Linked DNA regions of Homo sapiens. The protein of the gene in region 1 interacts with the protein of each later gene in a biochemical or structural test. Each region holds a gene or a part of one and is shown on either strand. Other genes may lie near its edges.

The links.
Region 2: the proteins of ARL3 (region 1) and RP1L1 interact in a biophysical measurement, tested with the Homo sapiens proteins (one study listed by IntAct).
Region 3: the proteins of ARL3 (region 1) and BSND interact in a biophysical measurement, tested with the Homo sapiens proteins (one study listed by IntAct).
Region 4: the proteins of ARL3 (region 1) and RP2 form a complex in vitro, tested with the Homo sapiens proteins (2 studies listed by BioGRID).

The regions. Positions count from the first base shown.
Region 1 is NC_000010.11:102,703,831-102,711,403, forward strand, and holds part of ARL3 (ADP-ribosylation factor-like protein 3), read right to left. Parts: intron 1,660-7,573; coding exon 1,516-1,659; intron 1-1,515. UniProt on the Homo sapiens protein: Small GTP-binding protein which cycles between an inactive GDP-bound and an active GTP-bound form, and the rate of cycling is regulated by guanine nucleotide exchange factors (GEF) and GTPase-activating proteins (GAP).
Region 2 is NC_000008.11:10,652,144-10,659,228, forward strand, and holds the start of RP1L1 (retinitis pigmentosa 1-like 1 protein), read right to left. Parts: upstream 3,001-7,085; 5' UTR 2,755-3,000; intron 1-2,754. UniProt on the Homo sapiens protein: Required for the differentiation of photoreceptor cells. Plays a role in the organization of outer segment of rod and cone photoreceptors.
Region 3 is NC_000001.11:54,994,663-55,002,505, reverse strand, and holds the start of BSND (barttin), read right to left. Parts: upstream 3,574-7,843; 5' UTR 3,320-3,573; coding exon 3,143-3,319; intron 1-3,142.
Region 4 is NC_000023.11:46,839,800-46,847,372, reverse strand, and holds part of RP2 (protein XRP2), read right to left. Parts: intron 1-7,573. UniProt on the Homo sapiens protein: Acts as a GTPase-activating protein (GAP) involved in trafficking between the Golgi and the ciliary membrane.

The DNA.
Region 1 (7,573 bases):
AAGGTTGATGAGACTGGATTTAAAAAGGCAGGTAATTGGCCGGGCAAGGTGGTTCACGCCTGTAATCCTAGCACTTTGGGAGGCCGAGGCAGGTGGACTGCCTGAGCTCAGGAGTTCGAGACCAGCCTGGGCAACAACGGTGAAACCCTGTCTCTACTAAAATACAACAAATTAGCCAGGCGTGGTGGCGTGCACCTGTAGTCCCAGCTACTTGGGAGGCTGAGGCAGGAGAATCACTTGAACCCAGGAGGCGCAGGTTGCAGTGAGCTGAGATTGCACTGCTGCATTCCAGCCTGGGAAACAGAACGAGACTCTGTCTCCAAAAAAAAAAAAAAAAAAAAAAAGGCAGGTAATTTTTTTTTCTTTTAAAAATTGATACATATTTGTATTTATTAAGTCTGAAAAGTACACGGTAAAATATTAACCATGGTTTTTCTCAGAGTTTTCTCCTTTATACTTTCTCTGTGTTTTCTACATGCACTACTTTCATAATCAGAGAAGATAAAGCTATTTTTTAAAAAAGAATAGGCTGGGTGTGGTGGCTCACACCTGTAATCCCAGCACTTTGGGAGGCTGGGGTGGGTGGATCATTGAGGTCTGGAGTTTGAGACCAGCCTGGCCAACATGGCAAAACCCTGGCTCTACAAAAAAATACAAAAATTAGCGGGCCATGGCGGTGTGCGCCTGTAATCCCAGCTACTAGGGAGGCTGAGGTCCAAGAATCGCTTGAACCTGGGAGGCGGAGGTTGCAGTGAGCCAAGATTGCACTACCACACTTCAGCCTGTGTGACAAAGCAAGACTGTGTCTCAAAAAATAAATAATTTAAAGAAATAAAATAAAAATAAAAAGAATATAGGTACTCAGATCTGCTGGATTTGTCTATATACACACAAACACACACATGTGTATATATGTATACATATATTTTAAATTGTAACATAACACGTACAATATGCAGCTGCTGAGGACATGTGCGGGTGGGGAAGGTGGGGCAGAGACGGAAGAGGGGTGCATGTGCTGAAAGGTGCTGTGTGGAGGCTGAAGCCCAGTGGGATGCAGATGCTGCAGTGGGGTGGCCTGATGAAGTGGGTACTGTGAAGTGTGTCTGCGTACACATTTTAACGTTATAACATAAAACGTACCATTTCAGCCATTTTAAAGTGTACAGTTCCATGGCATTAAATACATTCACACTGTGGGCCGTTACCCACAGAACTCTTTCCATCTTGCAAAACTGACTCACTGTACCCGTTAAACAATAACTCCCCATTCCCCCTCCCCAGCTCCAGTAACCACCATTCTGCATTCTGTCTCTATGAATCTGACTACTCTAAATACCTCATGAGAATGGAATCTCTTACATATTTTTGAAATCTGGTTATCTTTAGATTGTATAGACTTTTCTCAGAGACAAAACTTGGAAGTGGACAAAACTGTATTTCCCATTTTGTCTTTCACATTGCTATTATCGTCTTCCTGTGTCACACGGCATCTGGAGCCAAGGCAGTGCTCACCTGTGTAGGTGTGATGTGGCTGATGTCTTCAGATGCAAGCTGCTTCAGAAGAGTGGTCTTGCCAGCATTATCCAAGCCCAGGAGAAGTATTCTCACCTCCTGGTCTGGTGCACTTTTCAACTTGCGCAAAATTGAGAGCAAGCCCTTCAACAACCACAAAGGAGACAGATTACTCTGGGGGCACTGACTGTGATATTAACTGGATATGAGAATAACTTCTCCTTGAAAAAAGTTATTGGTTATGGAGAGCTTATGTTATTATTTTTCATTCTAATGCCACTTATTCCATTTGCTTCCTCTTTCCAAGTTTCGGTAGAAGTGCTACAGTAAATTCAGCAACTTAATAAGTAGCAGGGCTTATTTCTGCTCCTCCAATCAATCTAGCTTAGCAGTCACCCCAAATCTCCTGGGAGTGTGAACTCTACCCCATCTGTGTTCCTAAAGCCCTTTACATACACTTAGAGCAGAACATTCATCATATCAAACTAGGTAACTGATGTTTGTATTTTTCTCCTTTACTAAAGTTTCTCGTGGTAAGGGCTATACTTGTCCCATAATGCCTGGCACTTATCAAACAGACACTAGATAACACTTGTGGAATTAAATAGGATGACACACCCAAGTTAACACACGATTTTAAGGTGTTATACAAAAATATATAAAAAGGCTATATAAAATTATAGTTGGGCTTCCTGTTAATGATTTTATCTATTTCATCATTTCACATTGCATGCCTGTATCAAAACATCTCATGTACCCTATAAATATATAACACCATGGACCCACAAAAATTAAAAGGAAAAAATTTTTAAAAAAGATTTTATCGCCGGGCACGGTGGCTCACATCTGTAATCCCAGCACTTTGGGAGGCCAAGGTGGGCGGATCACGAGGTCAGGAGATCGAGACCATCCTGGCTAACACGGTGAAACCCTGTCTCTACAAAAAATATAAAAAATTAGTCGGGCGTGGTGGCAGGCGCTTTGTAGTCCCACCTACTCGAAATGCTGAGGCAGGAGAATCGCTTGAACCTGGGAGGCGGAGGTTGCAGTGAGCCGATATTGCACACTGCACTCCAGCCTGGGTGACAGAGCAAGACTCCGTCTCAAAAAAAAAGATTTTATCTATTTCAGCACATCTTCAAGACTTCTTCATTCAAAATGTTCTACTATCATCTTTCACAAGACCCTACAGGATAGGTGCATGGTATAGATAATCTGTGTTTTTTAGATGAAAAATTTGGTACAACAGAGAAGTTAAGAAATCATAAAAGGCATCCATGAAGCAAAACAAAACAAAACAAAACAAAAACCCACCAAAATTAACCAAGGAATTTTTTACTGTTAATCTAATATTTCCCTCTGTCACCCAGGCTGGAGTGCAGTGGTGCAATCTCGGCTCAACTACAACCTCTGTCTCCTGGGTTCAAGCAATTCTTGTGCCTCAGCCTCCAGAGTAGCTGGTATTACAGGCATGTGCCACCATGCCTAGCTAATTTTTATATTTTTAGTAGAGATGGGGTTTCGCCATGTTAGCCAGGCTGGTCTTGAACTCCTGGCCTCCAGCGATCAGCCCACCTTGGCCTCCCAAAGTGCTGGGATTACAGGCCATGAGCCACCTCTCCTGGCCATTATTTATTATTTTTTATGGATAGAAATATAAAGCATGTTGCTGGGCATGGTGGCTCACGCCTATAATCCCAGCACTTTGGGAGGCCAAGGCAGGAGGGCTGCTTGAGCCCAGGAGTTCAAGACCAGCCCTGGCAACATAGTGAGACCCTGTCCCTACAAAAAATAAAAAACAAATAAGCCAGGCATGGTGGCGCAGGCCTGTGGTCCCAGCTACTCAGGAAGCTGAGGTGAGAGAATTGCTAGAGCCTGGGAGGTCGAGATTGCAGTAAGCTGTATTTGTACCACTGCACTCCAGCCTGGGTGACAGAGTGAGACTCTGTCTCAAAAAGAAAAAAAAAGAAAAAAGAAAAAGAAAACAAAGAAAAAATAAATAAACCATGTTGATTTTTAGTTAAGAACATAAGAACATCTTTATAGGAAAGTTATTTGTTCTGTGCTATAGCTGATAATCTTGTTCTAACGACACATGGCTAGAACAAGAGTCAAAGAATCCCAGAGTTTAAAGGGCATATAATTTAATCTCCCAGCCCAAGAAGAAATTCCTTCAAACTGAGTCTTAGAATTATGCAAAATGGTTGTATTTGTTATTCACATTGTACCAGGCAATAATTCAAACCAGTTTGTTCACTAAGATCAAAGGATACTTCTGAGAAATAATTCTCAACAACTGCATCTTTGGACAATCATACGCAAATATGCATAATTATTAAGAATTCCTTTCTGCCTCAGAGACTCTTTGTTTACCACTTCTAGTACTGTATCTGTACTGACTTGCTAAGGACCACATTAACCTTTCTATGCCTCAATTTTTTCCAGCAGTAAGATGGAAGGTTTAGTCTAAGCTAGACAAATTCTATGCCAAAAGATTTGGGGGACAGAGATTGAATAGATTGGAAACAAACAGAAGTCTGGCTTTTTAAAAGGCCAGACTTTTTTTTCCTTTTTCTTTTTTTTGGGGGGACAGGGTCTTCCTCTGTGGCCTAGGCTGGAATGTAGTGGCGTGAACACGGCTAACTGCAGCTTCGACTCCCTGGGCTCAAGCGATCCTCCCACCTCAGCCTCTCCAGTAGCTGGGACTACCGGCTCACACCACCACGCCCCACTAAGTTTTGTATTTTTTGTAGAGATGGGGTTTTGCCATGTTGCCCAGGCTGGTCTTGAACTCCTAAGCTCAAGCGATCCACCCAAAGGCAAGATTTTTTTTTTTGCTGTTTTTATCTCATCTGGTCTTGAATACTTTGACAGCATTCCTTCTTAAAACTATATTTACAAGAAGTCTCCCTGGTTTCTATTAGCTATATTGCAATCACTCATTTATAATATCACCTTTCAGAAAAGTAAAAATTAAAATTCTGAGATCCTTAGGGGACTGGTGACATAAAAAGGCTAAGAGGAAAACCCATTTTACTACTCATCCTGAGTTCCTGATTGTAAGTGAAAAGAAGAGGTCTCATTACCTCTTAAAATAAATTATAAAACATCTGGAATTTATCAAATTAGTACATTAAATGACACAGGCAAAGTTCTTCTCATGCATTTTCTGCTTAGTGCAGAAATTATGAAGGAAGATCTGTTTCCTATTTTAAAAAAAATTTTTTTTGGCCGGGTGTGGTGGCTCACACCTGTAATTCCAGCACTTTGGGAGGCCGAGGTGGGTGGATCACTTGAGGTCAGGAGTTCGAGACCAGCCTGGCCAACATGGCGAAATCCCGTATCTACTAAAAATACAAAATTAGCCGGGTATGGTGGCACATGCCTGTAATCCCAGCTACTTGGGAAGCTGAGGCAGGAGAATTGCTTAAACCCAGGAGGTAGAGGTTGCAGTGAGCCAAGATCATGCCTCTGCACTCCAGCCTGGACAACAAAAGTGAAACTCCATCTCAAAACAAAAACAAAAAATAAAACCATATATTATATATATATATATATATATATTTTTTTTTTTTTTGAGACAAGGTCTCACTCCTAATGCCAGGCTGGAGTACAGTGGTGAAATCATGGTTCACTACAGCTTCAGCCTCCCAGGCTCAGGTGATCCTTCCACCTCAGCCTCCGGAGTAGCTGGGACTATAGATGTGTACAACCGCACCCAGCTAATTTTGTGTATTTTTAGTAGAGACAGGGTTTCACTATGTTGCCCAAGCTAGTCTCAAACTCCTGGCCTTAGGCAATCTGCCCGTGACGGCCTCCCAAAGTGCTGGGATTACAAGAGTGAGCCACTGCACCCGGCCTATAAAATATTTTCAAAGTTTAAAATTAATGTTTTGGGTTTTTCCTCATGTGTCTCTTTTAAAGAAGTTACTAAAAATACTGTTTTTTTTTTCAGGCAGAGACTTGCTCCACACTCATTACATTTGATATTAAAGAATTAAGAGAAAAACAAGGCCAGGCACAGTGGTTCACACCTGTAATACCAGTGCTTTGGGAGGCTGAGGCAGGAGGATAGCTCAAGGCCAGGAATTCAAGATCAGCCTGGGCAACAAACACGAGACACATATCCCTACCAAAAAAAAAAAAAAAAAATTATCCAGGTGTGGTGGTGTGCACCTGCGGTTCCAGCTACTCAGGAGGCTGAGACAGAAGGATGGCTTGAGCCCAAGAGTTTGAGGCTGCAGTGAACTATGGTCGGGCCACTGCATTATGGGCTAGGTGACAGAGCAAGACTCTGTCTCAAAAAAAAAAAAAAAAAAAAAGAGACAAACATAATGTTTATTCACCTTAAAAGGAGAGGAGCAAAGCACAGATAAGAAAGAAAAAGAAATCATTCTAACTATAAGGCTGAGTGCAGTGGCTCATGCCTGTAATCCCAGCACTTCGGGAGGCTGAGGCTGGCGGATCATTTGAGGCCAGGAGTTTGAGACCAACCTGGCCAACATGGTGAAACCCTGCCTCTACTAAAAATACAAAAAATTGGCCAGGCATGGTGGTGGGCACCTATATTCCCAGCTACTTGGGAGGCTGAGGCAGGAGAATCGCTTGAACCTGCGAGGTGGAGGTTGCAGTGAGCCGAGATCACACCAGTGTACTCCAGCCTGGGCCACAGAGCTAGACTGTTTCAAAAAAAAAAAAAATTCTAACTATAGATAAACTTTATTAACCTAATGGTGTAGAATACAGTGCTTCTACATTTCTAATGAGTAATTTTCCTTATTAGGAAATAATAACTTCAGATACTTCACCTTTGAGTGAAATTACAGAGAAATGCAAAGTTCAGCTAATGTTTTCTTCCAGCAAAATGATAAATGGCATTTCAAGCATGGTCTAGGGAAGACAAGTGCAAATATAATACAGCATCATATTAATCCAACTACTGAGGATGGGATCACAGGATTATCAGGGTTTGCTAAATAGGGAAGAGGATATTTATAGAGATCAGGGTTCTGCCTGAAAGGTACAAAGTAAGCTGATTTAAGAGGCTGGATGAAAGAGACCAGAATAAGTCTATTCTGTGCATCTATACATATATGCCCATATTTTATTTTAACTGTCAAATGAAGGGAGACAGCGATTAGAAGTTAAATTTATCATAGGGCTGAGTTTTGCAGTATAAATACAATGACATTAATTTTTAAAGTGCATTTTTTGGCCAAAATATCCATTCACGCAATTATCATTAAACACCCTTAATGTGCCCCAAGTACAACAGTGAGCAAAACGGGCATGATCTCTATGTAGGATTTATATTCCTGTGACATTAAATAAAACAATTTAAGAAACATGAACTTCAGTTAAAAGTATATTGTGTGTTACCAGCATGTGTGTATACAAGTTATCTACACCCTGGTGGGCAGAAGTGGTCTGACTCAACCACAAAACATTTAAACAAACTTTTCTACAGTCAAATCATGAATAGATGTGCTATGGACTACAGACGTTTTATCTGCCTCGAAATCAGCTTAAACTACTGGCAGAGGCATGGTGCCCTGACCTAAAACAATACAAACTAGGTCATTCAAAGAAACCAGAGTGGTGGAGGGAGAAGGAATGCGTTGGTATATGGAAAATATATGTGGTTGTGAGGACCAGCTAAAATTTGAATTCTGAAATTACGAAGCCAACAGTCAAGTACATACGGTCCCCATAACTAGCTTAAATATAACTGACTTCCATTTGTTTTTACGTCTTTCAACTGAACTCCTATCAGCTTAAAGCTCAAAATTGAGAACTTAATCCAAACTGTGTCTTCTTTCTCATCACCCTCTCCTAAATAAATACAAACAATGTTTCCTAAGGAACAAAGTCTGAGCATCTCCTCAGGAAGAGTGGGTTCCCACTTCACCAGAGTCCTAATGAAATGAATGTTATGGGCTTTAGAATTTCACAGACTTGTATTCAGCTTCTGTGTGTGTGTGTGTGTGTGTGTATATATATATATATATGTATGTATATGTATCTGTATATATATATGTATATATATGTATGTGTGTGT
Region 2 (7,085 bases), on another chromosome or scaffold:
TGACACAGCTGTCTAACAACACACTTCTCAAAATGCATTCCCATCATGAAGCCACGCATGACTCCACTATAAATAAAAGACTGCCCTTCAGGGTTGAAGGAAATGATTTTAGGATCAAGAAGCAGGGACTGTAATATGATACACGTCACAGAGTGGACTCATAGAACTTAGGGCCCCAGCTAACAGTAAGGCTGACAATATAGATATCCATCCAGAAGGGTTGGGGGCCTCCTCAGAAACTGATCCATCATGAGTGGTGGAGAGAAAGCAGATTATACATGTAGATCTCCTGCTATGCACCAGACACTTGACGAATGCGATGTCATCTAACTCTAATATTCCTTCCTGCTGGGTATAACCAGCCCCGCAGTATCTTAAAGAATCTGGGGCTTGGAAAGCTTCAATGACTCGCCCAAGGTTCACGTAGCTAGTGAGTGGTGAAATCACTCTTTGAACGAAAGTCTTGTTTCCTCCAAATTCAATGCTTTTGGCTACTTCATTTTACAATTGATCCTTCTGTATTGAAGAAAAAAAAAAACCTTTCAAAGTAGCCCACATCTGAACACCAAGATTCCATCTGCAGCCTGAGGCTGGCCGGCTCTCCACTCTGAGCCCACGTCCCCCCTGATTCCCTATCTCCTCCCGTCCTCTGTGCGTACCTGCCCTTCCTGGAGGTCATCATGCTCACTTTTGTAACTATCACAGTGCCTAGTGGAGCTCTGAACAGAGCAGGTGCCTAGCTAATGTTACCTAAAGTATTTTCAGACATTAATGTTGGAGGAAGGCTCGGTCTTTGGGGATCGATGACATCCCAGTGGGTGCCCAGTGCCTCAGGCCACTGTTAGACAAATCAACTCCGGGTCTGAGGCAGGGTGAAAACTCTTTCTGTCCCTGTGTGGCTGGGTTGTATCAGCCCAGCACCTCCAGCAAGCCACAGAGTGGTTGCTCAAGAGATATTGTTGACAGATTGATTTACTGACTAATTTATATGACATACTTATTCAATGACACAGGTCTCTTGGAGGGAGTTCACAGGAAAGTAACCAAGATGATTAAAGGATTGGAAAATGCGTTTTACAGGGAAAGGTTACAGGGACGGGTTATTTAACTTGGAGCTGAGAAAGCTGTTGAACACTGCATGCACAGGCCATCGAGCTGGAAAGAACCGAAGGCTTGTTTAGTCCAGACCCCTTGATTTCCACCTAAGAGACCAAAACCCAGGAGCAGAGGAGCAGAGAACTATGTTGCCAGCCACAGTCTACACTTCGTGACTGCAGGTCCAGGGATCCCTCCAAAACACCAGGTGTCTCCCTCCAACACACACACACACACACATACACACACACACACGTGCACTCGTAAACTAACACATGCATCACATGCACACACACGTCACATGCACACCCACCTGTATACACATGCACACTCATGTGCACACACCCACACCCACATCACATGTGCGCACACGCACCTGTACAAACATACACACTCATGTGCACACCCACACACGCATACACACACACACACACATTAAACACAGAGGTTCAGAAAACGGCAACCAGCTCTCCTCGTCCCCTCCTGTTAGAAGAGAGCAGCAGGCCTGTCTGAGGTCACTATAATTTGTAAGAGGATTTCTGGAAGATGTTTATATAACCGAGAGGGTAAATAAAGAACGATGTGGAGTGCACATCTTGAAGGTGTGTTCTCACTGTCTGAGATGCATTTCTGGGCTGTGCACCTCCCCCAGGGAAGGAGTCCTGGTGCCCTCCCGCGACCTCCTCCAAGCTTCCACCCTGAGGCAGTGTCTTTGCTCCTTTTCCCTTCACTGTGCAGCAGCTGGGGAGGGAGCCTGGGGCAGGGGGATGAGCTGGCTGTGGGGCATGGTCCCATGGGGAAGTACAGATCTGAGGCACAGGGACAGTTAGCTGCAGCCGCGCTGGACCTCGTCTGAGGTCTGGGCCATGGATCTCTGCTCACTTGCCGTTGGAACCACTGATCTCCCCTAAGCCTCGTTTTCTCCACCAGAAAACTGGGACGGGAGACTGGCACTTGACTGGCCGCTGGGGGGATGTCATTACCATAAAGAGAGCAGACCCCAGTTTGATTTTGTGGCCCTTCCATGACTTCATCTGTCCGGGCCTCAGTCTCTTCTGCACAAATGGGCCCAGGATGCCAGCCTTGAAGCTGGGTAGAGAAAATTCAATGACCTCATTGATAGGGACCTTCTATGCCCCTTCCTTACCACTCTCTCTATTTGCCCTGGGTCTTCAGAGATTCTTGAAGTCTCGGTCCTCTAAGAAGCAAATTGGACACCTCCCCAGAATCTGCTCCCACCCCAGCTGACCTCACCCTGCAGGAATCAAGGGGCAGCTGCCCACCTCTCCCTCCTCTCCAAGAGCCCCAAGAAATCCTCAGGAGGGATTTCTCCCTCTCTGACTCCAGCGACTGCATTGCTCACCCTCCAGGTCCAGGTGGGAGAAACAGACAGGCTGTGATACTAACATCCTGTAAATCAACGAGCAGAAACCTGAAACTCCACTGTGTCGTGTTTAAACATGATCTGCTCCCAAACAGCCCAGCAGGCCTTGCAGAAGAGAACCGATCCTGCGTCACCGCAAGCATCCTGTTCAAGACATCCCTCCCAGGCTCTCAGGCTGAAACGCCTCCCCACTTGCTGTGACTTCCCAGAGCCAAGACTCTCTGCCCCTCAGGTGGCTGGCTGACCCTGCGGGACATAGGCAGCTGCTGACTCACCGTCCTCCAGGGAGCACAAGGGCATGGCTCAGCCCCTAAGCCTCAGGGGGACGTCCTTTGGAGGAAAGTCAGGCCAGGGGGAACACCGCCTCCTTCCCTGCCAGTGGCTCAGTCCCTCTGGGCAGCAGGGCTGGCCACCCTCCTCCGGACAGTCCTCGGGGCCACTCTCCTTGGCCTGAGAGCCTGAGGCCCCAGTCCCTTGGGCAGGAGCCCAGCCTCCTGAGCTCCAACAGATGGTCCATTTGCACAGAGACCTGCCACCCTGGCCACTCTCCCCAGAGGGAGCTGGATTATGGCAAACCCAAGAGGATTAGTGCGGGAGGCCATCTGCAGAGAGGATAATTAGCTTAATGGGGTTACACGGATTGTTCCTGGCCCTCTGCCCAAGGGTACACTTGTCAAGACTGTTAAACACAGCCTGGGGGCTTGCAGGGGAGCCCTCTGAGCACCAGCAGCTCCCACCCTGTTCCAGTTGTCTGGGTGGGCCATGACAGGCCTGCAGGATTGGGGGAGCGCCCCGCCCACCGTGGTACTGGGCAGGAACACCAGGTCCTGAGTGGGGGACACCAGGGGAAAGGTGGGGAACTGTTTTCCATCTCCCGGAAGAAAGCAGAGAAGGAAACATGATGGTATTGCATCGGGCAGGAGGCAGCACGTGGAGGCCCGAAAGAAGCAGCTGAGAAGTCAACCCGTCCTCAGCCATTTTCTCCACCAAAGCCGAACAGCAGCTTCCCCTCGAAGGGTCCTCCTTCTTCATTTCAGACAAAATGGATCATTTTGGTTTTAGGTTGGCAGTGCCTATGGGGAGCCACAGGAGCCTGGAATGTTCAAATCAACTCTCTCGGAGGGCTGGAAATTTGTTTTTTGTTTGTTTAGAATACACTTGTTTAAGTGCAGGGCTGCCTGGAGGCAGGGGACAAACTGTGACCTCCAGCCTGGCAGTTTCCTCCCTGGAAATTAACTAGGTGGAAGGGCAGCCTGTGGAAGTCATGGGGACTCAGGGTGTGTTGCCATCAAGAGGCGAAGATTTAGTGTATGTGTAGTCCGCATTGAACTGATCAGTTCCACAAATGAAATCACTTAAGCCTTGCTTCTGGCTGACAGACACAGCAGGTCAGTCCCAGTGATCAGATGTGTGTGGATGTTGGCTCTGGGGTGCAGATCACACTGTAGGTGAAAGATAGGCTTGCCCAGGTAATTTTAATAAGTTAGCATAAGCATCGTCAAACACAGTAGTGATCAGCCAAAGTCCAGATGCTTCATGCAGAGCACAGAATACGAGTAGCGCAAAGGCATTTCAGATGATGTACGTTTGGTTCACATGTAGTGAGCACCTACCTGCAAAGTGTACAGCAGTCATTGCTATTCAGTAAATGCCAGTTCATCCAAATCCATGAATAAGCACAGAGTTGCAATAAAACATTTCACTAGCTTCTTTTCCCCAGGGGAATGTGGGGAAACATTGTAAGTAAAGGGAAAATATAATTTGTTCAATGTCCACACTTATAAAGGAGAGTATACTTAGTGGCCTCAAAGTGGGGTTACCGCATATTTTATCAGCTAAACCAAGGCACTTTGGGGAGTGAAACAAGACATTATCAATTTCATCTGGAAGACAGGAGTAAACCGCAACTGTCCCCAGGCAATCAGCACCCAGGGCTCCCTTACCTCGAAGAATGACCAAGTGTAACATCTCTGATTTTGTGAGTTGCATAGTCAAATAGCCTTTGTACTACAGAAAACCTACTTCAATGATTCAAAGCTGCAAGACGGTAGCTAGAACTTTTGAACCTGAGCCTCAGAGGTCTTTGTACCAACCAACAAGAGATTCATGGCTCAATGTTTCCCAAATACCTACTATGTTCCACCTGCCCTCTTAGCCACTACTGAATATGCAAAGAAACCTCAGAGAAGCCAACATCAAATTGTAGCCACAAAAGATAAGCCAGTTAAAGTAAAATACCAATCCTAGACTTTGACAACCCTTCCAAGTGGCTGAAAGCAGAATATGCAAAGTGACTATTATTGACAGTAAGTGCTATAAATATTCCAAAGCTAGAAAGACTATCATGATGGGAAGGAGGACATCACTCCTGAAGGATGAAAAGGAGAGGGCATTTTGATCCAGATGAAGCAGAATATCTGTGCATGAATTTATACCCTCTGCTCCGATTTCATAGCCATGAGGGACCAAATGAAACAAAGGAACAATAAAAAGATATAACTAGGGTTTCCCCCTACACTCCCCAAAAGGCAAACATCTCTATTGCCCAAAATTAGAAGAAAAACACAAAGCAGTGAGTAGGACTGAGACCACAGGCTGGCTGGGCTCCTCCACACCTTTAAGACACAGAAGCTGTAAAAGGGAATGCTGACCCCTGTGTGGGGGCATGGCTTTATGATACTAGATCTCTGCTGGTGGAGCAGGGGTTGCCCAAGGATCACGTGGCAATGGTTGAAGACATTTTTGGTTGTGTCAGCTGGAGGGGGGAGTGCTACTAACATCCAGTGGATAGAGGCCAGGGACACTGCTAAATACCCTGCAATACACAGGACAGCCCTCTCCATGACAAAGAATTACCCAGCCCCAAATGTCAGCAGTGATGAGATTGAGAAACCCTGGTTTATAGGAAGCCATTGGTGTAATACACACAAAGTATCTGAAATACATTTGTGCTACTCATATTCTGGGCTCTGCATGAAGAAACAGGACTTCAGCTGATAACTGCTGGGTTTGATAACCTTTATTCTAACTTATAAAAATTATTTGGTTTATAAGAAGACATTGGTATAATAAGTAAGAGGGAACAAAAAGATTCAGCCGCATGGCTGGTGACTGGGTCTAGAATATCCCCCAAAATATTTGCAGAGGAAGAACTCCAAAAATGTCACTAGGAGATTCGGTTCTGACTAGGAAACTGCATGAGGGCCACCACAAAACTACTACCCAGGGAGGGTAGCAGATAGAGAGGGAGAGAAAACAGAACAAAAGCAAACCCGCTACTCTAGGTGAGCCTGAAACCAACATTTAAAATCACATGACAAATATGATGTACAGAAAGACAGTCAACAAAGTCAGCAATGAGAACATGAATTCACTCCAAATGAAATTAATTTCATGGGATGGTCTGATAAAGACTTAAAATGTGCCTTAGCTGGAGCTAGAGGGGTACACGGGAGAGCTCGGAAGGAGAGAGGCTTCATAATTACCATATAGCAGCCACTGTCTAGAGTTTCAAAAACCCTAGGAGGTAGGTATTATTATACCACTCCCGATATGAGGAAACCGAGTCATGGAAATGAGAACTAATTTCCCAGGGTCATTTGGCTGGTATGTGGCAGAGCCAGAATTTGGGTCTAGGCAGTTTGGCATTGGCCTCCATGCATCTCATCAATACACTGTGCTTTGGGTAGAGAGAACAGCATAGCCCCAAGAAGGGATTTTATTAAAGATATAAGAAAGAGAATGAAGCATCAAAAAGGGAATGGAGAGAGAAGAGTCAAGCAAAGCAGTGTGAAAACAGGCTAATTGTGTTCGCAGGGTGCAGGAATGGTAATCCAGCCATGGCTGCTGAGACACCCAGGAGAATAAAAGGGAAATGGCACCAGTTCTTGGCAGTGCAGGGAGCCCTGGTGGCCTTCAAGAGAGCTGTTCAGTCGAGAGGAGAGGGCAGAAGAGAGAGAGACTATAGGTGAGAAGGTGGTGGGGAAATAGAGGCAGGAATGACAAACCTTTTGTTTGGGAAGTTTGCCAGTGCAAGGCAGGAAAGAAACAAGGTGGTAGCCAGAGCAGGCAGCAGGAAGTGGCCGGTGATGGGGAGAGACTGAGGATGCAGGAGGGAGGGGACAACGCAGGTCCTAAAAAGGTGAGAGGAGGAACCACAGCTTGTTGCTGGGGCCTGGTTCCTGGGACCGGTATGTAAACCCAACCACGGGGCATTTATGCACTGAGTAAGAACTACAGCGAGCTCCACATCACCTGGACACAGCCCAGGACAGTGCAGCCTCTGGACCGTCACTTCCTTAGCTGTTCTCAAGGGAATTCTGCCACCGCAGGCCTTCCTAGGGATGGGCTGGTTTTCCACAAGCTGCCGCTGCCGGGCCATCATTCTTACACGTGGGCACAGCCCCTCCTTCCTTCAAAGGGCATGCCCACTGTCAGCTTCCACCACCATTGGCAGCTCCTTGCTGCTGTCGTCCTTGGACCTCATGGACTCGCTCCCTCGTTCATGAGGAGTTTGGCACCTGGCCATGCAGAATCTCCCTGTCCACTTGAGAAATGCCACTGTTCCCTGATGGCCCTATGTCTGTGTGGCACCCATCCCACAACC
Region 3 (7,843 bases), on another chromosome or scaffold:
ACTGAGCAATCTCCAGAGAGAGGGAGGCCACCAGTCAGGACCCTGGTCCTGGTCTCCAGCACAGCAGGCAGGAGTGAGGAATGGGGGATGCGTGGGCAGAGACCCTGCTCTCCCTGCCACTCCTTTCCCTGCTCACAGCTCCCCTGCCCCATCTTCACTAATGGGCTCAGCACCTCCAACTGTCCCATCCACTAGATTTGCCCTGATCCCTTCTCCTCTCTCATGCCTGAGGCCCAGCTGACCACCAAATCTGACCAGGTCTACTTCAGAAATTCAATAAGATAACCTGGGTGGAAGTGCTGGTGCTATGCCTAGCCACAACGGGTACTCTATGTGAAGTGAACTGTAAATGTCACCTTAGTTCCTACAGCTTTGTGTTTGAATTCTGCATTATTCCAGATGACTGTCAGCTCTCACCAAGACCAGAGAAGAAGCCTCCCCACTGGTATGGCTGCCCCCAGACCTTCCTTCTTCTGGATGTCTTTCTCAAACTGCAAAGCTGGTCGTGTCCCATTAACTAAAGGACAAGCTCCAAATTCCTTACCATGGCATCCCAGGCCCTGAAGAGTTGAGCCCCACTCCCTCGCTACCTTTACCTTCCTCCCCTCTGCCTCTCGTAGCCACAATGGCCCACTTGCCTTATTCTTTTACCACATTGCTTTGATCATGCTACTCTTCTGCCTGGAATGTCTTTCCCCATCTTCTCTGCTTGGTGAACTCTTATCTCACCTACAAAGCCCAGCTCACCTTCTCTGTGAAGCCTGTTTCCTCCCCATCAGGCAGCAAATAGCCTCTCCCACTAGACCTCTAGCCCCTAAAAGACATGGACAGCTTAATGCATGTTGGTATTGGCTACCCCTCACCCCTATATCCTAATTAGCTAATTCTATTCCCTTATATTTATATCTCCCCATTTATCAAAACTTTCCATAGGTCTGGCACAGAGAGCCACGGGGAGGAGGCTGAGGGGAGGACAGGCAGGAGCACTGCAGGCAGCGTTGGCCCAGGCACCAATGAGACCAAGCAGGATCCAGGGAGCTTCGCCTCTAGAGTGTCTCCCTGGTTTATAAGGTGCTTTCCTCCCTTCCCTTATTGGAGTCAATTTGTGCTGGCTCTACCAGCCTGCATCTCTGAAACACACACTCACACACACCTGCACTCATGCAGAGGCCCACCCAGTGCCGCAAATACCAATCCTCAATCCTAAGAACAATGCCTTCACATATGTTCCATGGCAGGTGTGATGCCAGGTCTCCCCCAACACACACACACACACACACACACACACACACACACACACACACGATCCCACTGTGTTCTCCCAATCAGCCGTACAAGGCTCAGAGCTGAGGGGGAGGGACTCTTTCTGCCAAGGTCACAGAAGTGGGACATGAAGGAGCAGGGATTTGAATCTGGGCCTGGAGGTTGCCACAACATGTGCCATTTTCAGCCCACCACGCTGCCTCCACAGCACGTGAACCCATGAATCTATCAACAGTTACTCATTAATACCCAGCAATATTCCCTCCTCCCCTCCCCTCCCCTCTACCGTCACTCCCATCAGCCTACCAACCATCCCAGAGCCAGCTCTATTTAAGAGCGGGGGCAGGAAGGATGCTCCTCTCCACACCTCTGCCATCCCTCTGCTGTCCCCCAGGGTCCAGCCTCCTCACTGGGAGAAGGATTATAATAGCAGTGGTGACATGAGTGGCTTTGGCCCCAAGGACTTCTCCCAGTGACCTCTGCTCAAGGAATTGCACAGACAGAGGCAAGTTGACTGTAAACTGCCTGCTAAATGACTACAAACCAGCCCAGACCGCTCCAGCACTGAACAGAATGACAGCCCAGGGTTGGCCCGTGGAGGGGGCAGGGCTGGGGAGAGCCGGCCCAGGCCCCAGGGAGCCATCCCCCTTCTTCCCTGAAACCCTGAGCACAGCCACCCAGGTGGGAGGAGAGGAGGTGTGGGGGTTGCTGAGGACTGCCTGGACCTGGAGCCCTAGATATTAGGTCCAGCAGGGCCCCCAGATATACCCCCTTTCCCACCCCCCCCTCCTAACTCACACAGTGTACAAATGAGGAAACTGAGGCTCAGAGAGGAAAGGGGCTTGAGCAAAGTCTCCCAGGCAGTAAGAGACAGAGCCCAAGTTAGAGTCCCTATTTCCCTCCTTTTCTCCCTGGGTCTGTACCTGACCAGCTGTGTGACCTTGGAAGTCACCCAGCCTCTCTAGGCATTGAAGATTCGCAACTCCTGGCATTTCCATTCCACAGAGCTGTTGGGAGGATCAGTATGGGTAACAGTGGTAGCCCTTCATCTATAAATAACACCTTACAGTTTACAAAATATTCCTATATCTTATCTCTTCTCTGATCTTTATAATGACCCTGTGAAGCTCTGTGGAAAATAGGGGCAGGGATCTCATTTGCAGATGAAAAAAATGAGGCTCAGAAAGACAAAGGTCATAGAGAGTTTGGAACAGGACTTGAACTAGAACTCAGGACTCCCAAACCAGTGCTCTTCCCATCACTAAATTACACATAAGGCTGAGAATACATGAAGACTCTAAAGGATACTGCCCAGTGCATGCCACCAAGGTTAGACCTGACCTACCCTGGAGCTCTCAGTCGCTCTGGGACCCAGAGGTAGAAGACCCAAGGTGAAGGGTGACGTGTAAGTCACACGCATCTGAGCTCCAAACCTTGCTCGTTAGCTGTGCAGCCTCTCTTTCTGGACCTCAGAAAGGCTCAGAAGGTGGAACTACAGAAAGCACCAAAAGGCTTAGGATGAGGGCTGAACTGCACCCTGAACGCAGGAGTGCCTGGCAGGGGGTCAGCGCTCATTAGCTTTTGTTTCAAGCACATGGTGTGTTGTGTTTGCTGTGTCTATACCATAGCTTCCGGCTCAGGGCTCCAGATCCAGGGGCCTTCTGATCAACCCTTAGGCTAAGGGATGGATGGATGGATGGATGGATGGATGGATGGATGGATGGGACAGACGCTCAGGAGAGCAGAGAGAAGACCGAGTCAAAATGAGAAGAATGAAAAGACAACTAAAGGATAGGGGGTGAGGCATGGCATACAGGCACAGTGTCCAGCCCTCCTGGCCCCAGCTGACCTGGCCCCACCCAGCCCCACTACCACCTACCTTGGGGTAGCACTGGCACATGCTCCAGATGATGCCCCCGATCACCATGACGCTGCCCATGGCATAGAAGGTGCCGTAGACCTGGGGCCGATCATGGCTCATGAGGAACGTACCGAGGGCCAGCAGGAAAAGCCCCAGCACAATGAAGCCGATCCGGAAGGTCTTCTCGTCAGCCATGGCTGCCTGGCCAGTCCCTGGCCTGCACACCCCCGGGAGAGGGGGTGGCTGTAGTTCAGCCTAAACACCGAGACAGGCTTACACAGGGAGAGAAGACACTGAAATCGCTGCAACTCAAGGCTTCAAGGGAGAGCAAGATCCCTTTCAATCCCGCTCCAGTCCCTGGGCCCACCAGTTCAACAGGGCTGGAGGCGGCTCGCTTCAACGGACCCACACCCAGCCACCTTTACTCCTTGCCCTCTCACCTTCCCTCTGGGCCCGGCTGGCCTGGAGTGTGTGTGTGAATCTGAGCGAGGGAGCACACAGGGGAGGGAGAGTGGGAGGTTACCGGGGCTGGGCCCCAGCCAAGGCTTTGACATCACCTCATTTGCCTACTGTGGGGTTGAGCTGGGTGGACAGGCAGCCTCACACCTTCCAGCTCTAGAAAACAGGGTACAGTTCTGCAGCTGAGAGCTGTTAGAATGCTATTGGAGGATTCCAGGATCCCACAGGCTGGCATTTCAGAATCCTGAAGAATTCTACACTCTTCAAGGACATGTGCCTATCCAGGGTTCAGGAATAATGGCCCATATGTACTGGCTGGTGACTATGTGCAGGGCACCATTCTAAACATGTTACAGCTATTAACTCATTGAAGGGAACCCAGTGAAGCAGCTACTACTATCCCCACTTTACAGAGGACCCTCGGGCACAGACAAGTAACTTGCCCAAGGTCACACAGCTAAAGATGGCAGAGCTAGTGGGATGTGAAGCCAGAGGCCGTGGGCCTAGCCACGGCGTGATACTTCTTAACTGCAGCTTGAGGGTGAAAAGCGTGGCTCTGGTGGCAAGGCAGGCTGCCTGGGTTTGGATTCTGGCTCCTCTACTGTGGGGCAGTGTGGTCATGATCAGGTTACCTCAGTTTCCTCCTCTGTAAAATGGGAATAATAATGTACCTCCCAGATTTGGTGCTGTCTCCAGGCCTGGCCTCCTTGGGTTCCTCCATCCCCTTCACATTCACACGCTATGCACCACCCAGTTGGGCTTTCAATGAACTGCTCCCCACCCACCCCTAAGGCTCTCGGAATTAGTGCCCCTGCAGGGTGTGAGTGACTGACAGTCACTTCCTCCATTTCCTTGCAGCCTGATCTAGGAAGATGCCTTCCTAAGAATAACACTAATGAGGCATTTTAGTCCTAGGGACAGGCTGATGGAAGAAATCAGATTCCTTTACAGGATTACAGGAAAATGAGGACCATCGGTCTCTACAAGAGAATGTTCACTTGGCGTTTACATGGGGTTAAATCGCCGATGCAGGATAAAAGGCTTTCAATGGGCTCCCTGACTTGCTGGGCTTGGGGATTTCCTGTTGGCGGTCATCACCTTCTCCCCTCCTGCCAGCAGGGCTGCCCTTGTTCCCTAACCCCACACCTGTGCTCACAGCTGCCCCTCTAACTAGACGTCCTTCTCATAGGCCCTTTTTCCAACAGGGGTTTCTCCTTCCTCACACCCACCATCGCCAGCCCTCAGAGTCCAGGTGCACTTGACAGTTCGCAGAGGAGGTCCTGGAGGGAGCTCAGGGGCCCTGGCTGAGCGATGGCTGAGGGGCAGGAAAGGGCTGAGTTATCAGGTCATGTCCAGGTCTGGTTCTCAGGGTGAGCTCAGGCAGGTGGCTCTGCTCCGGGCTAGAGTTTTGTCAACTGCAGATTGGGGATAGGTATTAGGCCACCTCCCAGGTTTTGTACAGGGAAGGGACATAAGGGGAGTGGGAAAAGGCAAGTACTTTGTAATCTGTGACTATTAACAAAGCAGGACCTTCCACGGAAACATTATTATCATCATCTACTACAGGCTCAGAGAAGGGAAAGGGCGAGTGCCGTGTTACCTAGCCGGTGCCCCTCCCTGGAAAGGAGACGGAGGCCCAGAGGGACCTCAGCCCGTCTGGCCCTGGAGCCCAGGCGGGTGGCGGGAACGGTCTCCGCAGCCGCGGTCCTGCAGGGCCTCGTGGGCCGCCCGGCGCTGAGCAAGGCGCTTCCCCCGGGGTCAGCGGCTGGGCTCGGACCCGGTGATGAGCAGTCGCGGCGGGGAGGGGAGTCATCGCCCGCATTTCACAGGCGAGGAAACCGAGCCTGCGGAGTGGCAGGGGCTGGCCAAGGTCTCCCTCGGCTGAGTCGGCGGCTGAGCGGTGACCGCACCTCCCCTCCCAGCCCCATGTAGATGGATCTGCTCTTCAGCCATTCCTCAGAGGCCTCGCGGTCACCCGGGCAGTCTTCTTCTCTCGCGCCTTTTCTTTCCTCTACACGGCCCAGCCTTCTTCGCCCCTTTTCTCTCTGAGTCGCTTCTCCTCTTAAAAAAAAAAAAAAAAAATAAGGTAACTACGAGTAAGAAATTCAGTAGCAAGTAGGAAACAGGTAGGAACTCTGGAAAATGGGTCTCACCTAAGCTCTTCCACAGAGTCGGGCTAGGGATTAAGTAAGGACATGTGTGTAGGGTGCGCTGGAAATGTTCGGGTGCAGCAGCTCCCCCTCCTCTCCTGTAGTCCCCCCGCCCTCCCGCCTTACTTCACCTCCCCCGGGCCACCTGGGGGACTGGGGAGCAGAGCGCGCGGAGTCTTTCATCGTCCAGCAGAGGGCGCGCTAACCCCAGCTTTCGGGATCCTTGCGAGCGGGCTCCCATGACACCCCGAGGCAGGGAGGGAAAGAGCACGCCCATTTGACAGAGGTAAGCATCGAGGTCCACGCAGGCAAGGCGAGCGACCCAACGTGGCAGAACCTGGGAACAGACAGTAGAGCTAGGAGTCCACCCAGGTCCCCAGGCAGTCTCTGGTTGAGCCCCTACTGTGTGGGGGACACTGAGCTGTTAGGAACTCGTACACACAGGGCTTCAGGGATGGATGGCGCTCAGTCCTAACTTCTGGGGCACCTTCTGGGGCACAATACGGTAATGGCTTTGCGATGCGTGCGAGGTCCCGAATGTGCACAAAGCAGAGAGAGGAACAGATGGGGATGAGGGGTGAAGGGACAGATTCACAGAAGGGACACTTGAGAAGGCAGTTGGAGTTCTGACGGGGCAGGAGAAACCTCCTAGGCACAGAGGCCAGCATGTGCAAAGGCACTGAGGTACGTACCCGCCGACACACAGCTGGCGAGAAAGCTCTAAGTGCTGTGCACAGGCTGCCTGCATTGCATCTTCCTCCCCAGGCCTGCCCCTCCCATAACCCCATCCTTCCGGTTAGCAAGCCCCGTCACCAACCTCACCTCCTCCATCACACCCACATCCTATGGGCTCTACCTCCAACATGTAAGAATCCAATCACTTCTCACCCCTGACGACTGCTCATCACCGGGTCTGAGCCTCCACCATCTCTTTCTCTCCCTAACTGGTCTCTACTTCCATCCTTGACCTCTGAAGTGTCTTTGCAGCCCCAATACTGGGTCAGATCATGTCACTCTTCTGCACGGAGCCTTGGAATGGCTCCCCATCTCATCAGAGTAAAAGCCAAATGCTTTAAGATGACCTGAAAGGCTCTGGATAATTGGCCCGCGCTGCCTGCATATCAACCCTCTGAGCTTGCCTCCCGCCACGCCCCCTCTCACTCACCCATTCCACCACCCTGGCCCCATGCTGTTCCTGGAACACGCATGCATCCCAGGGCCTCCGCACCTGCTGTTCCTTCTGCCTGGAGTGCTGTTCTTCCTGTAGCTGCATGGCTCCCTCCCTTACCTTCTTCAGGACTTTGCCCAAATGTCGCCTTCACAGTGAGGGCTTCCCTGATCCTGCTATGAAACTGCAGAATCGCCTCCCCAGGGGTTCCCTGTATTCTTTTCTCAATGTTTCTCCATAGTGCTCACAGCCACCTATCATACTATATGCATGATTTATCTTGTCTCTTGTCTGTCTGTCTCCTCAACTAGAACTCAAGCCCCCACAGGGTGGGGACTTTGTTTTGAGCACTGCTCTATCCCCAGGGGCTAGGACAGGGTAGGCTCTGGATGCGTGTGTGAATAGAGGGATGGAATCTGCATGCCTGGGAGAGAGAGGCCGGAGAGGAAATGCAGGCAGGAAACCTGCTGGGGCTAAGGTATCTGACATTTTTCACAGAGGTTATGCATGGGAAAGATGAGAACCAGATTTTAATTTTTCAATTAGAGAGAGAAAGATCCCAGTGAGCAGCAATGAGCCACCGAGGGGGTAGCACAGGGATTTCTGACTGGGGTGGGCTGATTTAAGGTGGAGAGCTCCAGGGGCAGGGGTCACCAAGCCCACCCAGCGGGTAACAGAAGCCCGGGAGGGGCCCAAGGAAAGCACGGGGGAGGTCTGAGCTCTGAGGATCCCTGTCATCTGAGACTCTGGTGGCCAGCACAAGATGAGGTCTGAATAGGGGGTGAAGAAACTGGATGGTCGGGCCCAGGAGGAAAGAAACCAGCAAGCAAACTGGTGCCTCCTGGGGGCTGCAGAGTGGCAGAGCTGGCCCTCACGTGGCTCCATGGTCAGGCACTCTGCCAGTGGACACAAGGAACCCCCATTCACAGCGAGGCCACTTTG
Region 4 (7,573 bases), on another chromosome or scaffold:
TTACTCAAATTGAAAATGTTTGCTCTTCAAAAGACACTCTTAAGAGAAGGCAAGTTATTAACTGGGAAAAAAGTATTTGCAAAACATATATATAACAGGGGACTTGTATCCAGGACATATAAAGAGCTCTGAAAAACTCAATAATAAGAAAACAAATAACCCAATAAAAAAATGGGCAAATGATTTGAATAAACATTTTACCAAAGATATATGGATGGCAAATAAGTACATGAAAAATGCTCAACATTTAGGTAAATACAAGTCATTTGGGAAATGCAAGTTAAACTACAATGAAACATCACTACACACCTATTAGAATGGCTAAACATTTTTTTTTAAAGCTAGGCGAGGTGCAGTAGCTCACAGCTGTAATGCCAGCACTTTGGGAGGCCAAGGTGGGACGATCGCTTGAAGCCAGGAGTTTCAGACCAGCCTGAGCAACACAGCCAGACCTTGTCTCTACAAAAAATAAAAATATTAGCCGAGTGTGGTGGCAGACACATGTAGTGTAGTCCTAGCTACTTGGGAGGCTGAAGTGGGAAGATTGCTGGAGCCCAGGCAGTCCAGGCTGCAGTGAGCCATGATCATGCCACTGTACTCCAACCTGGGAGACTGAGCAGACCCTGTCTCTTAAAAACAAATTAACCTGACAATACCAAGCAAGTGATGTGAGGATGCAGAGCAACTGTATCTCTCATATACTGCTGGTAGGCAAAATGGCATAGCCACTTTGAAAAATAGTTTGGCAGTTTCTTTTTTAAATTTTTAATTAATTTTTTTTTTATAGAGACAGGGTCTTGCTCTGTTGCCCACACTGGAGTGCAGTGGTGCAATCAGAGCTCACTGCAGCTTCAAACTCCTGGGCTCAAGCAATCCTCCTGTCTCAGCCTCCCAAGTAGCTGGGACTACAGGCATATGCCACTCTGCCTGGCTATGTTTATCCATTTTGTAGAGGTGGGGTCTCACTATGTTGCCCAAGCGGGTCTTGAACTCCTGGCCTCAAGCGATCCTTCTGCCTTCACCTCCCAAAGTGCTGTGATTACAGGTGTGAGCCACTGACCTGGCAGTTTTTTGTAAAGTTTAATAAACAATTTCCATATGATCAGCAATCCCACTCATGAGTATTTACCCAAGTGAAATGAAAACTTATGTTCACTCAAAAACCTGTACACAAATATTTATGGTAGCTTTATTCATAATTACCAAAATTGGAAACAACCCAAATGTCCTTTAACTGATGAATGGATAAACAAACTGTGATATATCCATACAACGGAATACCACTCAGCAATTAAAAAGGAACTCCCGGCTGGGTGTGGTGGTTCATGCCTGTAATTCCAGCACTTTGGGAGGCCAAGGTGGGCGGATCACCTGAGCTCAGGAGTGCAAGACCAGCCTGGGCAACGTGTTGAAACCCCATCTCTACCAAAAAGATACAAAAAATTAGCTGAGTATGGTGGCACTCGCCTGTTGTCTCCACTACTTGGGAGGCTGAGATGGGAGATCACTTGAGCCCCGGAGGCTGAGGCTGCAGTGCGCCAAGATTGTGCCACTGCATTCCAGCCTGGGTGACACAGTGAGACCCCATCTCAAAAAAAAAAACTCTTGATACATGCAACAACATGGATAAATCTTAAATGCATTATGGTTAAGTGAAAGAAGCCAGACTCAAAAGGTTACGTATTGTATGATTCCATGTATATGACATTCTCAAAAAGACAAAACTATAGGGATAGAAAACTTATCAGGAGCTGGGAGTGGGGCTGACTACAAAGGAGCAAACTGACTATACAAAGGAAGAACTTTTGGGGGCGATGGAACCATTTTATATCTTGATTGGTGATAGCTCCACAACTGTATTTATTTGTCAAAACTCATAGAACCGTACACTTAACAAGGGTAAATTTTACTGTATATAAATTACACTTCAATTAAAACAAATACTTAAAGTTTAAACATTGTTAAGTCAGCTTCAGGGCTAGATAGCTATGTAGCTGAGAGGTTATTTCACAAATGAAAACATTAGTGCCACATAATTATAGAACTAATAGTGCTGAAATATAAATTCTTAATCTCAATGACTTTGAAACATAATAAGAAAATGAACAGGACAAATAGTTTCTCTCAATAATAATATAAAACTTATGATCTTAGTCAATATACACACCTCCCAGAAGACAGATCCACTATCTTTGCTATTAAATTGTGTTCTGGGCATGCAAAGCTAAAGGGTAGCCTCTGTGACACTATGGTTTGAGTTTTCCTGTGACTTAACCCAAGTGACACCTACATCATCATTGCTACTGTCAATACTGTCAGTAGGCTTTTAGCCTATTTGGAATTTATACAAGTAAAAAATGTACTAAGCTTTTATGAACAGACACTTCTCAAAAGAAGACATTTATGCAAGCCAACAGACACATGAAAAAATATTCATCATCCCTGGCCATCAGAGAAATGCAAATCAAAACCACAGTGAGATAACCATCTCACACCAGTTAGAATGGCGATCATTAAAAAGTCAGGAAACAACAGGTGCTGGAGAGGAGGTGGAGAAATAGGAACACTTTTACACTGTTGGTGAGACTGTAAACTAGTTCAACCATTGTGGAAGACGGTGTGGCGATTCCTCAAGGATCTAGAACTAGAAATACCATTTGACCCAGCCATCCCATTACTGGGTATATACCCAAAGGATTATAAATCATGCTGCTATAAAGACACATGCACATGTATGTTTATTGCGGCACTATTCACAATAGGAAAGACTTGGAACCAACCCAAATGTCCATCAATGATAGACTGGATTAAGAAAATGTGGCACATAAACACCATGGAATACTATGCAGCCATAAAAAAGAATGAGTTCATGTCCTTTGTAGGGACATGGATGAAGCTGGAAACCATAATTCTCAGCAAACTATAGCAAGGACAAAAAACCAAACACTGCATGTTCTCACTCATAGGTGGGAATTGAACAATGAGAACACTTGGACACAGGAAGGGGAACATCACACACCGGGGCCTGTCGTGGGGTTGGGGGAGGGGGGAGGGATAGCATTAGGAGATATACCTAATGTAAATGACAAGTTAATGGGTACAGCACACCAACATGGCACATGCATACATATGTAACAAACCTGCACGTTGTGCATATGTACCCTACAACTTAAAGTATAATAAAAAAATTTTTTTAAATAAAAAAAATGTACTAAGCTTTGTAGAGTACCAGGGTCAAAAATATATTTTTTAAATGATTGTTTTAATAAAAGGGGCTATGAAAAATTCAACTCATATCCTATGTATCTAATGATCTTAACCACGACCTTGCTATTTCAGCTTTCTGATACCTTTTCTTTTTTGATGCTTCATTCTTAAAACTTCTATAAAAATTTCTGAGGCTGGGTGCAGTGGCTCTTGCTTTTAATCCCAGCACTTTGGGAGGCCGAGGTGGGAGGATCAGATGAGACCAGGAGTTCGAGACCAGCCTGGCCAATATGGCAAAACCCTGTCTCTATTAAAAATACAAAAATTACCCTGTATCTTGAGCTTATATAGTATAAGCTCAAGACCAGTATCTTGAGCTTATATACTATTGATGATTCGAGAAACTGAAGTACTACATTTATATTAGCTTACCATTTTGTGAAATATATAACAACAAAATAGAATTATGAAATTTTAGGATTGAAAAGATTCCCCATATCATCTAATCTAATCTGAATCTATTTTTACATCCTATCACATTCCCTTTGTTCATCCAGATTTGCCTGAATGTTTCTAGCAATGCTTACCTCCCCTCATGGGCTGCTCAAAGAATTCAAGAACTGGAAGGGATCTTAGGAAACTGAGGGCTAAAAGCTAAATTAGTTTACCAGTGAGGTGTAGTTAGGTGCAGAATACAAATTAAAATTCCAGCCCCATATACTTTTCACTCTCTATGCTTTTTACCTTTATCAAAATTTTATATGGGTGAAGAAACAACACTCACACATTGCTGGTGGAAATATAAATGGTGCAGGCACTCTAAAAAACTGTTTAGCAGTTCCTCAAAAAGTTAAACATAGGCCAGTCGCGGTGGCTCACGCCTGTAATCCCAGCACTTTGGGAGGCCAAGGTGGGCAGATCACGCAGTCAGGAGATCGAGACCATCCTGGCTAACATGGTGAAACCCCGTCTCTACTAAAAATACAAAAAATTAGCCGGGCGTGGCGGCGGGCGCCTGTAATCTCAGCTGCTGGGGAGGCCGAGACAGGAGAATGGCGTGAACCCGGGAGGCGGAGCTTGCAGTGAGCTGAGATCACACCACTGCACTCCAGCCTGGGCGACAGAGTGAGACTACGTCTCAAAAAAAAAAAAAAAAAAAAGTTAAACATAGAGTTACCATATGACCCAGCAATTCCAAACCTAGATGTGTACACAACAGAAATGAAAACATGTCCAGACAAAAACTTGTATACAAATGTTCATAGCACCATTATCCATAATAGACAAAAAGTAGAAACAACCCAAATGTCCATCAGCTGATGAATAGATAAATAAAATGTGGTATATCCATACAATAGAATAAAGTCTTGATACATGTTACGATATGGACAAACTTCAAAAACATGCTAAGTGAAAGATGCCAGTCACAAAAGGCTAAATATTGTGGCTCCAATGAAGTGAAATGTCCAAAATAGGAACACTTATAGAGACAGAAAATAAGTTTGTGGTTTCCAGGGGCTCGGAGAGACGAGAATGGGGAATGACTACTAATGGGTACAGGGTTTCTTTTTCCAGGGATGAAAATGTTCTAAAATTAGACCATGGTGATAAGCCTGTGAACTTACTAAAAAATACTGAATTATATACTTTATTTTTAAACTAAATTTATTTTAAATTTTTATGGATATATAATAATAGTAGTATGCATTTATGGGGTACATGTGATATTTTCATACAAGCATACAACAATGTAATGATCAAATATGGGTAACTGGGATATCCATTACCTCAAACACTTATCATGTCTTTGTGTTGGGAACATTCCACATTTTCTCTTCTAGCTATTTTGAAATATACAATAAATTATTATCAACAATAGTTGGCTGTGGTGGGTAGTGGGGAGGAGAGGATGAAGAGTGGTTGGTTAATGAGTACAAAAACACAGTTAGACGGCTAGGCACTGTGGCTCATGCCTGTAATCCCAGCACTTTGAGAGGTCGAGGCAGGCAGATTGCCTGCGGCCAGGAGTTTCGAGACCAGCCTGGCCAACATGGTGAAACCTCATCTCTACTAAAAAATACAAAAACTAGCTGGGTGTGGTGGCACGCGCCTATAATCCCAGCTACTTGGGAGGCTGAGGTGAGAGAATCGCTTGAATCCAGGAGGCGGAGCAGTGAGCGGAGATCATACCACTGCATTCCAGCCTGGGCAACAGAGTGAGACTCCATCTCAAAAATATATATACAGTTAGATAGAATGAATTATATACTTTAAATGGGTGAATTGTATGGCATATGAATTATATCTCTAAAAAGCTATTTTTAAAATTAATAAACAAAGAACTAGTTATATCCTTTAAACAACTTTATATAGAGGATTTAAAACCTACTGGCAAATTCTTTGACACTCCTCCCATTGAGAGGTCACCTCCTCTTGGAACTGGGTGGGCATTTGTGACTGCCTCAGCATTACTCCTGCCACATCCAAATTAAGTCTAATTAAGTGACTTAAGAATTCACTTAATAAGCTAGTTAGAAAAAAACCATGCAGCTTCTGCCAGTCTCTCTTAGGATGCTTGCCCTTGGAACCCTGCCATCACACTGTAAGGAAGCCAGGAATACATGGAGAGGCCCCAGCTGAGCTCCCAGCCCAAAGCCAGCATCAACTTGCCAGCCAGCTATGTGGTCAAGCCATCTTGAAAGCTGTCACGGTTGATGCCACATTGAGCAGAGTCAACCCTGCTTAACCTTATGCAAATTAAAGAGTTATGAACAAAATATCTGCCATTATTTTAAACCATTAAGTTTTAGGGTGGTTTGGTACACAGCAATGGGTAACTAGAATACTTTTCATACTTAAAAGAAGGCTAAAAACAGTATCTAGCCTCCTCCTACTTAGTGCAGACACTTCTTTCTAGCAGATTACCACCCTAACTGTCTGACAATTTTGACTAACATGGAGATCAGGTCCTCAACGAAGCCACCCCTTCCACTGATGACCAATCCTGGGAATTATGATCTGCCTTATGTTAAAACCAGTTCTGTCATGCCCAACCTCTGGTTTAAGTTCTTTCCTCAGAGGTGACCATTACTGTCTAAACCTCTTCTTCAGGACAGGCCTTTACCTTACTAAACAGTAGAGAAATCTTTAGCATTGTCCTACTATATAGCTGAGGAACCTGAAGTGCACAAATTGGCTGCTTTACCCAAAGTTACACAATAGATACTCGAATTTCTGGTATAAGATTTTTGTTTAGTATTATTTCTATTGAATATGAGACAAATATAACAGACACATGTGTTGTCCTTACTCAAATCACAATTTTCACACTTAAGCCATAATTGTTTAGAGTTAATCCTCATTTCTATTATCTAGGAGGAAAAGTATGGGCATGAATACTGGAAGATGAAAACTACTTTTCCGTATCACTCTTCCTCACCTCATATGTACTTAAATGTTTCCTGTTTTAACTCCAGAAAGCCAGTAAACTCTTTTAGGGCAGGGATAAGTCTTATAATTTTGAGACTTACTTGGTGTTTGAGTACATACATACTGAATAATTTGCCTACCTATGGGTGGCAGCATACAGATAAGGATAAAAACATTTCTTTTGAAATAATTTAAACACAAGTCTTACAATCCAAAAATATTTCTCATCACATCAGTGTAAGAATTGTAATCTTTTTTCTTTTTCAAAGTCAGTAGCAATAGAAAATGAGCTTCTTACACTGTTGACTACAGTATGTCAGTTGCTATGACAATGCTTAGTCCCCAGACATTCCTTCTAAATGAGACAATTTCTCCCAGCTTCAGTCCCCTAAGACTGACCCAATTACACAACTCAAACCCCAAAACCCAAGGGGTGCCCTTCAATAAAGATACTCTGGGCTGGGAGCGGTGGCTCACGCCTGTAATCCCAGCACTTTGGGAGGCTGAGGCAGGTGGATCACCTGAGGTCAGGAGTTCAGGACTAGCCTGGCCAACAAGGTGAAACCCTGTCTCTACTAAAAATATACAAAAATTAGCCAGGCGTGGTGGTGCACGCCTGTAATTCCAGCTACTCAGGAGGCTGAGGCTGGAGAATCGCTTGAACCCAGGAGGCAGAGGTTGCAGTGAGCCGAGATCGCGCCACTGCATTCCAGCCTGGGCGATGACAGAGCCAGACTCCATCTCAAAAAGAAAACATCAAAAAAAGATACTCTGATTACACAACCTAAGGAAAAATGTAAACACCCTTTTCTAAGCTGCAAGGAAATTTTTCAGGCAACCCATTTTGTTTTTACATGTAAAAGTCTTACAAGTTGAATGGTAATTGTCTGATATAACTTTAAAACTGTATATGCTATAATCCATAACCACATTCCAG